Linked DNA regions of Homo sapiens. The protein of the gene in region 1 interacts with the protein of each later gene in a pairwise test. Each region holds a gene or a part of one and is shown on either strand. Other genes may lie near its edges.

Evidence for each region.
Region 2: the proteins of FAIM (region 1) and RSPH1 interact in a two-hybrid assay, tested with the Homo sapiens proteins (one large-scale study listed by BioGRID and IntAct).

The regions. Positions count from the first base shown.
Region 1 is NC_000003.12:138,625,749-138,629,566, reverse strand, and holds part of FAIM (fas apoptotic inhibitory molecule 1), read right to left. Parts: intron 461-3,818; coding exon 411-460; intron 1-410. UniProt on the Homo sapiens protein: Plays a role as an inducible effector molecule that mediates Fas resistance produced by surface Ig engagement in B cells.
Region 2 is NC_000021.9:42,471,921-42,475,738, forward strand, and holds the end of RSPH1 (radial spoke head 1 homolog), read right to left. Parts: intron 951-3,818; coding exon 898-950; 3' UTR 566-897; downstream 1-565.

The DNA.
Region 1 (3,818 bases):
CATTTTAACAAGATTCCAGGCAATTTCTGTGCATGCAAGTTTGAGAAGCAGTGATAACGCACCACTTCAAATGGATCAACACAAGAGGACACCAACCTCTGGGGATATAATTTTTTAACTAGGGGCTCTTTTTAGGTATTTTACTTGCTATGCTGGAGCCTGGTCCAGGACAGGAAAGGGAGAGTATGAAGCTAGTGCCAGCTAAGAACATGAGTTGTTTCCAAACTCACGGTACCAGGCACCATCTGGCAAAGGTTTTCAGAATCTGAAGTCAGGAGTACTTAATCCCTTTTTTGTTTTTATCAAGAGGGCCTTGATTCATTATAAGATCTCTATAATTAGGAAATGCAGCAACAATTCAATGGTAACTGAGACACATGGCACTTAGAGTCATCAAATAGTCAACTTACCGCTGTCTCCAATTTTTTACCATTGCACCATACGTCCATAGCATCTTTTTCTGTAAAGGTAACATAAAAACTTTAAGTTATAATTCTGTGATTTAAAGATAAAGTTAACTTTTCCTATTTATTACTTTAGGAAAGGATTGATATACCAGATCTCTAAAACTCCATTAATATTCCAAAACCCAACACTTTTTCATGGCTTTCATGGCTTGCAGACTCTCCTAAAATTTGAAGAAGCTGTGTTTGTTCTTTGTTCATAAAACTATAATGAAACAAAACAACCTTTTAAGAGAAAGTTATGGTCTTAATACAAATTGATGAAGCCTTATGAAACAAAATGAATCCAAAAGGACAATCTTTAAAGAAGGATGCATACAGGCCGGGCGCGGTGGCTCACGCCTGTAATCCCAGCACTTTGGGAGACTGAGGCAGGCGGATCACAAGGTCAGGAGATCGAGACCATCCTGGCTAATACGGTGAAACCCCATCTCTACTAAAAATACAATAATTAGCCGGGCATGGTGGTGGGTGCCTGTAGTCCCAGCTACTTGGGAGGCTGAGGCAGGAGAATGGCGTGAACCTGGGAGGTGGAGCTTGCAGTGAGCCGAGACCGCACCACTGCACTCTAGCCTGGGCAACAGAGAAAGACTCCATCTCAAAAATAAATAAATAAATAAATAAATAAATAAATAAAAAAGAAGGATGCATACAGATGAATGTGAGGAGGGACCCTTCCATACAAAATGCCCTTCAATATTGACCAGATGACTCCCCTGCCTCCCACACTCACCCAACTGGGTGATGGCACAAAAGACCACTGAAAGCAGCTGCCACGGGATTTATATAGGATAGACAGCATGTCCGCTTTAGAAATCTAGTCCAGCTTCTTACTAGGTAGTACAATAATGTCTATTCCTTTTCATAATGGTTTCAGTTTAGAGAAAAATTATTGGATTACAAGTAAAAAATAGGTATAGCTGGTGGACTGCACACTAAGGAACAATATGGAACAAAATGCTGCCCCGACACACTTAAATGGATCAGTTAACTTGCCATAGCTCATCTCAGGGTGGAGGAGTCCCCAGAGCCCCTTGCAAATGTTAGTGTCCTCAGGAGTAGCAGGAGAGAAGACTACACTAATCAAGAAGCCAGAAGTTGAGCTTTGGGTATTACAGTGAAGAAGAGAAGGAAGTATGGCCTGTATGTGCACAAGGAGTCTGGGGGTCAGGTTTGAGGCACCAGTCCAGGGTCTTACTGCCTGGCCATCTGCTCCAGGAGCACAGTCTAAAGGGGGTTCTTTCTCTCCCCATACCTTGAGATGGGAGCCTCACTTAGAGATGGGAGAAAAGCCTTTGAGGTGCGCTAGATGGAAAAAGAGAAAGCCAGAGGGGTCCAGGAGATATGGGCAGGGGTCACCTCAGTGGCAGCCTTCATAGAAAGCTGCTATAGTCACAGGTGCAGGTAAACTCAACTTGTCCCAAGACATGATCAGTGCACACAGTGCTATGATAAACCACGATGATGGTAGAAACTGGTATTTTACTTGCTATGCTTACTGAACATGTACGTGTACTCAGAGTTTCTACAATAGCGTATTAGCATGCCTCTGAAGAACACTACTAATCCAGAAGCCCTAAAAGAAAATGTATTAAATTTGACTACATAAAAGTACAAAAAAAGGCCAGGCACGGTGGCTCATGCCTGTAATCCCAGCACTTTGGGAAGCTGAGGCAGGCAAATCACAAGGTCAGGAGTTCAAGACCAGTCTGGCCAACATGGTGAAACCCCGTCTCTACTAAAAATACAAAAAATTAGCTGGACGTAGTGGCGGGCGCCTGTAATCCCAGCTACTCAGGAGGCTGAGGCAGGAGAATTGCTTGAACCCAGGAGGCAGAGGTTGCAGTGAGCCAAAATTGCACCACTGCACTCCAGCCTGGGCGACAGAGTGAGATCCTGTCTTGGGAAAAAAAAAAAAAAGTAAAAAAGCCACAGCACAATTGAAGAAAAATGCACACACATTAGCAAAGTCATGTAATAAATGACAAACTCTGAAAAAAATATGTCAAACTCACAGCATGAACAAAGGACTAAACTTACTAATGTGAAGACTATGAGAAATCAAGGAGAAAAAGACCAACAACCAAAAGAAAATGGGGCAAAGGGCATGAACAGGCATCATGAGAAAGGAAATACAAAAGAAACTTAAAACTAAGATGCTCAACCTCACTTATGAAAAAGACAAAAACAACCCTGAAATACCATTGCTTCACCTAGCAGAATGCCAAAAAATCCAAAAGTTTGGCTACATGTTCTGCTGGAGAACCTGGGGAAAATAGCTAACGGGGGTACAAAATGGTAAAAGTACCATGGAAGGCAAATGGGCAAAATCTATTAAGATGACAAATACAATTAGTCTTTGACCCAGAAGAATAGAAGTCCTACTTTCCTACTTCCAGAAATGTGTACTAATATAATATGTGTCCTGTTCCAAGAGGCATGCAAACAAAGCTATTCATGCAGCATTGCTTCTAACAGCAAAAGATTAGAAACAGCTCAAGTGTTCATCAGTTGGGAATGAGCTAAATACACCATTTACTATTGAAATTTACTCTGCAGCTATAAAAAATATGAAAAAGTTCTTTAGGTTCTGATATAAAAGGATCTTCGGAATATAATAAGTGAATAAAGCAAGATGCTTTTATGTGGTAAGAGAGAATATGTGTACTCGCTTGAATCTGAATAAAGAAACACTAGAGTGACACTAAAAATGGTTATCTTGATGGGGGAACATGGCAGATGGGAACAGGGATGGAAGCAAGACTTTTTAATGTGTCTTTTAATAGCATTTTGATTTCTGAATCTTGAGTATGTAACCTATTCAAAGTGGTATGTTAATAAAAGGACATATCTAGCTGATAAAATTTCAAATCTATTATGACTCAGTGCTGGATTTAGTGACTCATGGGAGTTGCTGCTGCATGTTCATCTTGGAGCATCTCCTCTTTGCCTGCGGATTCCCTCAGCCGCATGAACAATAGCTAGGGACTTCCCAGGTGAGTCCTGAGCAGGTTATGTTCTGTAAATGCTATCAAAGAGAAACTTTTCAGAACAGAAAGAGAATTTCCTTCCAGCGTGAAGTTTCATATGTACTTTCCTCCTGCCAGCTTTATTTTCCTCCCATGGTATTCAGTGGTGTGGAGACTACAAGAGCTGAGAATGCTAACCAACCCTGTTTTCATTGCCCTTATATGCCTCACATTTTTTAGGTGGTGAAAAAAAATGCACATGATCTTTGAGGTCAGCTCTCAGCATCACTCTTTACTAGCAGTACCCTTTGGCAAGTCACCACCACTCTGAGCTTCCATTTCCTCAGGGGCAAATGAAGATGATACCACCTTTCCCATAGGCTGT
Region 2 (3,818 bases), on another chromosome or scaffold:
AGTCGGGCTCCCCTGGGAGGTCCTCGCTTATCTGCCCAGGAACAAGGGGGTGGCCTGGCATTGGGGAGAGAAAGGAGAGGCAGAGTCTGAGACAGTCCTCAAGAAATAAGAATGAGGTGCAGGTGGCAGCCTCCAGTACACTAAGAAACGGAAGCGTGTGCAAAACAGGCCAAAGCCTGGCCTGTGGGCAGCCCTTCTCCCCAGCCACCTGCAGGGCCCCCACAGTGGGCCTGGGCTCCACATGGAGAAGCGAAGGAGTGGGAGGGAACCCTGCGGGGCAGCGGGCGGTCTCCTACCCAAGCCGGCCGTGTACCCATCACACTGCATTCGAGGAGCATTGCACACAGCAATCCTCATGTTCTAAGTGCTTCCTACCTCCCTTGTGGGAAATCTGAGAGAGGGGTTTGGGTACAGAACTACTCTCCCAGCTCAGCCAGAAGCCAAACTTCCATTCACCGTCTCCCGCAGATTTACAGTTTTCTCTATCCAAGGAGAAGACACCACTGAAAAACCATGGCAAAACCACGTGGTAACCTTCAGTTTACAGAACTTGAAGCAGAGGCTATTTCAGAAAGAAAGGATAATAAAGACGTTTATTTGCATTTGTCAATCAACTTAACATACAGCTGAGAAAGAAAGACTAAAAACCCTCTAATAAAGATTGTTAACTGACAGAAGCATTTTGTTTTTGTTTATTTTTTGAGACAGGGTCTCGCTCTGCCACCCAGGCTGGAGAGCAGTGGCGCGATCTCCACTCACTGCAACTGCCACTTTCTGGACTCAAGCAATCCTCCTGCCTCAGCCTCTCAAGTAGCTGGAACTAGATACACACAGCACTGCACCCGGCTAACGACAGAAGCATTCTTATGATACGATCTCCTCTCGGCTCACTTCATCTTAGTCCTGGAGGTCTGACTGTCTAGTTTCTTCTTCTTCAGAATTAATGTTTCCTGAAAAGAAAAGAGAAACATGAGTATATCTCATATTTACTTTGTTCTATTTTTAAAGCCTTTATTCACTAACAGATCTTTTGCCGAAAAAAATTATTGTAACTATTAAGCATTCATCAGTCAAAAATTGAATGTTAAATTTTATCTCATATGCACTTCAACAGTTTTTTCTTTTGGTACCCGACATAAAATAAGCAAAATACGTACTCAAAGTAAATGCTAAGACAAGACTATCCATGTAACATCAGTAATTCTCTTATGCCTGCACACCTGTCCAAAACAGCCAGCTTTGTGGCTAAAACATGTAATTGCTTGGCTATTAATTTAAAAGAAAAGCAGGCCGGGCGCAGTGGCTCATGCCTGTAATCCCAGCACTTTGGGAGGCCAAGGCAGGCGGATCACTTGAGGTCAGGAGTTCGAGACCAGCCCGGCCAACATGGTGAAACCCCGTCTCAACTAAAAATACAAAAATTAGCTGGGCATGGTGGTACATGCCTGTCAACCCAGTTACTTGGGAGGCTGAGGCAAGAGAATCGCTTGAACCCCGTGGCAGAGGTTTCAGTGAGCCGAGGTCACGCCATTGCACTTCAGCCTGAGCAACAGAGCAAGATTCCATCTTAAAAAAAAAAAAAAAAAAAGCAGAAATTTGCCACATTCTTATAAGACGCTATATTTAAATGTTTTGTGAAAGGTAGAGCTATTTTTTATTATTAATTAAACTCTATAACTTTCACTGTTGGGTATATTAAAGAAGAAATTAGCAGGGTAAATCTCCAATGTAATGTGGGATTCATGATGAATACATGCTGAACTTGCATTATTTTGATAAATGTTCTGCCGACTAAGCCTATTTTGTATTACTCCCTTTTCACTTAGGGCCCTCCTGACACTGTGGCCTGGGTGACCCTTTGCTGGGGGCTGTTCTGTGCCCTGCAGGGTATTCAGCACCGTCCCCGGCCTCCACCCAGGAAGATGCCAGCAGCACCTCCCTCACCAGCCTCCCAAGTCTCCAGACATTGCCAAATGTCCCCTGGAGCCCCAAAACCACTGAGTTAAGGGGGTGTTCCCTCTGTCCAAGGCTGGTGCATGAACCCACAGTCTCAGACGCCCGCTGGTACTGGGCATCGTCCACTCGGCCCCATCTCTCCCAGTCCGGTTTTCAGGATTCCTCCTGCTCCATCCCCTCCGTTATCTCCCCCACCAAGTTTCTGGGGCCTCCTGCCTTGCCTGGCTCCAGGGCACCCATCCTCATTGCCCCAGAGAAGCTCAGAGAGCAAGCCTGATACAGGCAATCCCCACAGCTCCCAGAGGTCCCGCCTACTGGGCTCAGGATCAAGTTCAAAGGCCATCTGGTTCCAAGGGAAAGGGGCCACCTCCCCACCCCCACACTCTTCTGCTGTCAGACTCTGCTCTCTGCCTGGAATTTCCTTCCTGGTTTCACCCATTCCTTGCCACCTCCCTCCCAGCTAACCCGGAGTTTCCTGGTCCTGCCCCAGGTGAGTCATCACCTCTCCTGGGTACATGGTAACACGTCCCTGTCACTGCAGGGAACTCACTGATTCCTTTATTCCAGCTTCCCATTAGGTGCTAGAGGGCGAGAGCCCAGCCCCTCACTCCCACACTGCCTATCAAACCCAGTGTCTCCCCCTCCAGCTGTGCTCCACAGTGACTAAGGACTGACATCTGTGGGCACAGCTAGATGCTGCTGTAACACTGTGCATACTCTAGCCACTCAGTCCTAACAGAATCCTGTGGACTCCCTACCTACCAGGGCTCACTCTATCCACCCTCCCTGTGCAAGTCAGAGAAGCAGAGACGATGCTCACTTGTAAAGCCAGGTTTCCACCTGACCCCACGTCCCACCTCAGCACTGCGTCACTGGGTGCATTGCTACAGCGCTCAGGGGAATTACCGATCACGAAAGTCTATGCCAGCGCTCAGGGGAATTACCGATCACGAAAGTCTATGTGTGCTTCAAGCATCTAAGAGAAAACTGCTTTATGTGATTTCATTATTTCAGGTATTATTTTCAAAGGAATGGGAAGTATATTCTTAATTTACAACAGAGACAAACTAAGTGGAATGGGACTGCAGACCCCGTGCCTGAGGCCGCCGTGCCCAGGCTGTTCCCAGATGGCCCTTTCCCTCACAAGCACGACACCCTCTTTCAGTCAGATGTGAAAAGTGCGTTAAGGGAAGCGAGTCCTCTCTCCAGACTTTCTGCAAGTGCCCACAAGCACTTGGGGAAAGATTTTTAAAGATTCCAGGAGCCTGAGGCTTCAGTCAGTCAGAACTGAGGTCAAATCCCTGCCCTATGAGCTGGCAGAGGCAGAAGTTTCTAGATTAATCTTACATCCAAACCCATTGAAAAAGAGCTAGTTCCCGACACCACTAGTCTGAAACCATACTCCTGTTAGTCAGCCCTGCTAAAAATCATGCAAATCCCAGCACTTTGGGAGGCCGAGGCGGGCCTCCTGTGTGAGGTCAGGAGTTTGAGACCAGTCTGTCCAACACGGTGAAACCCACCTCTACTAAAAATACAAAAAAATTAGCCGGGCATGGTGGCATGCACCTGTAATCCCAGCTACTTGGGATGCTGAGGCAGGGGAATTGCTTGAACCAGTGAGGTGGAGGTTGCAGTGAGCCAAGATCGCACCACTGTACTCCAGCCTGGGTGACATAGCAAGACTCCATCTCAAAAAAAAAAAAAAAATCATGCAACAGAAGAAAGCCAGGCTCTGCATGTCTGACAGGGCTCTCCAGCCTGGGGTCGGTCCTCCTGTGACAACGCGCATGGGCACCGCTGCACACCCAGGCCTCTCCCACTGCAGCCAGGCTTGCAGGAGGGCCTGCCAGGGAGCAACGTTC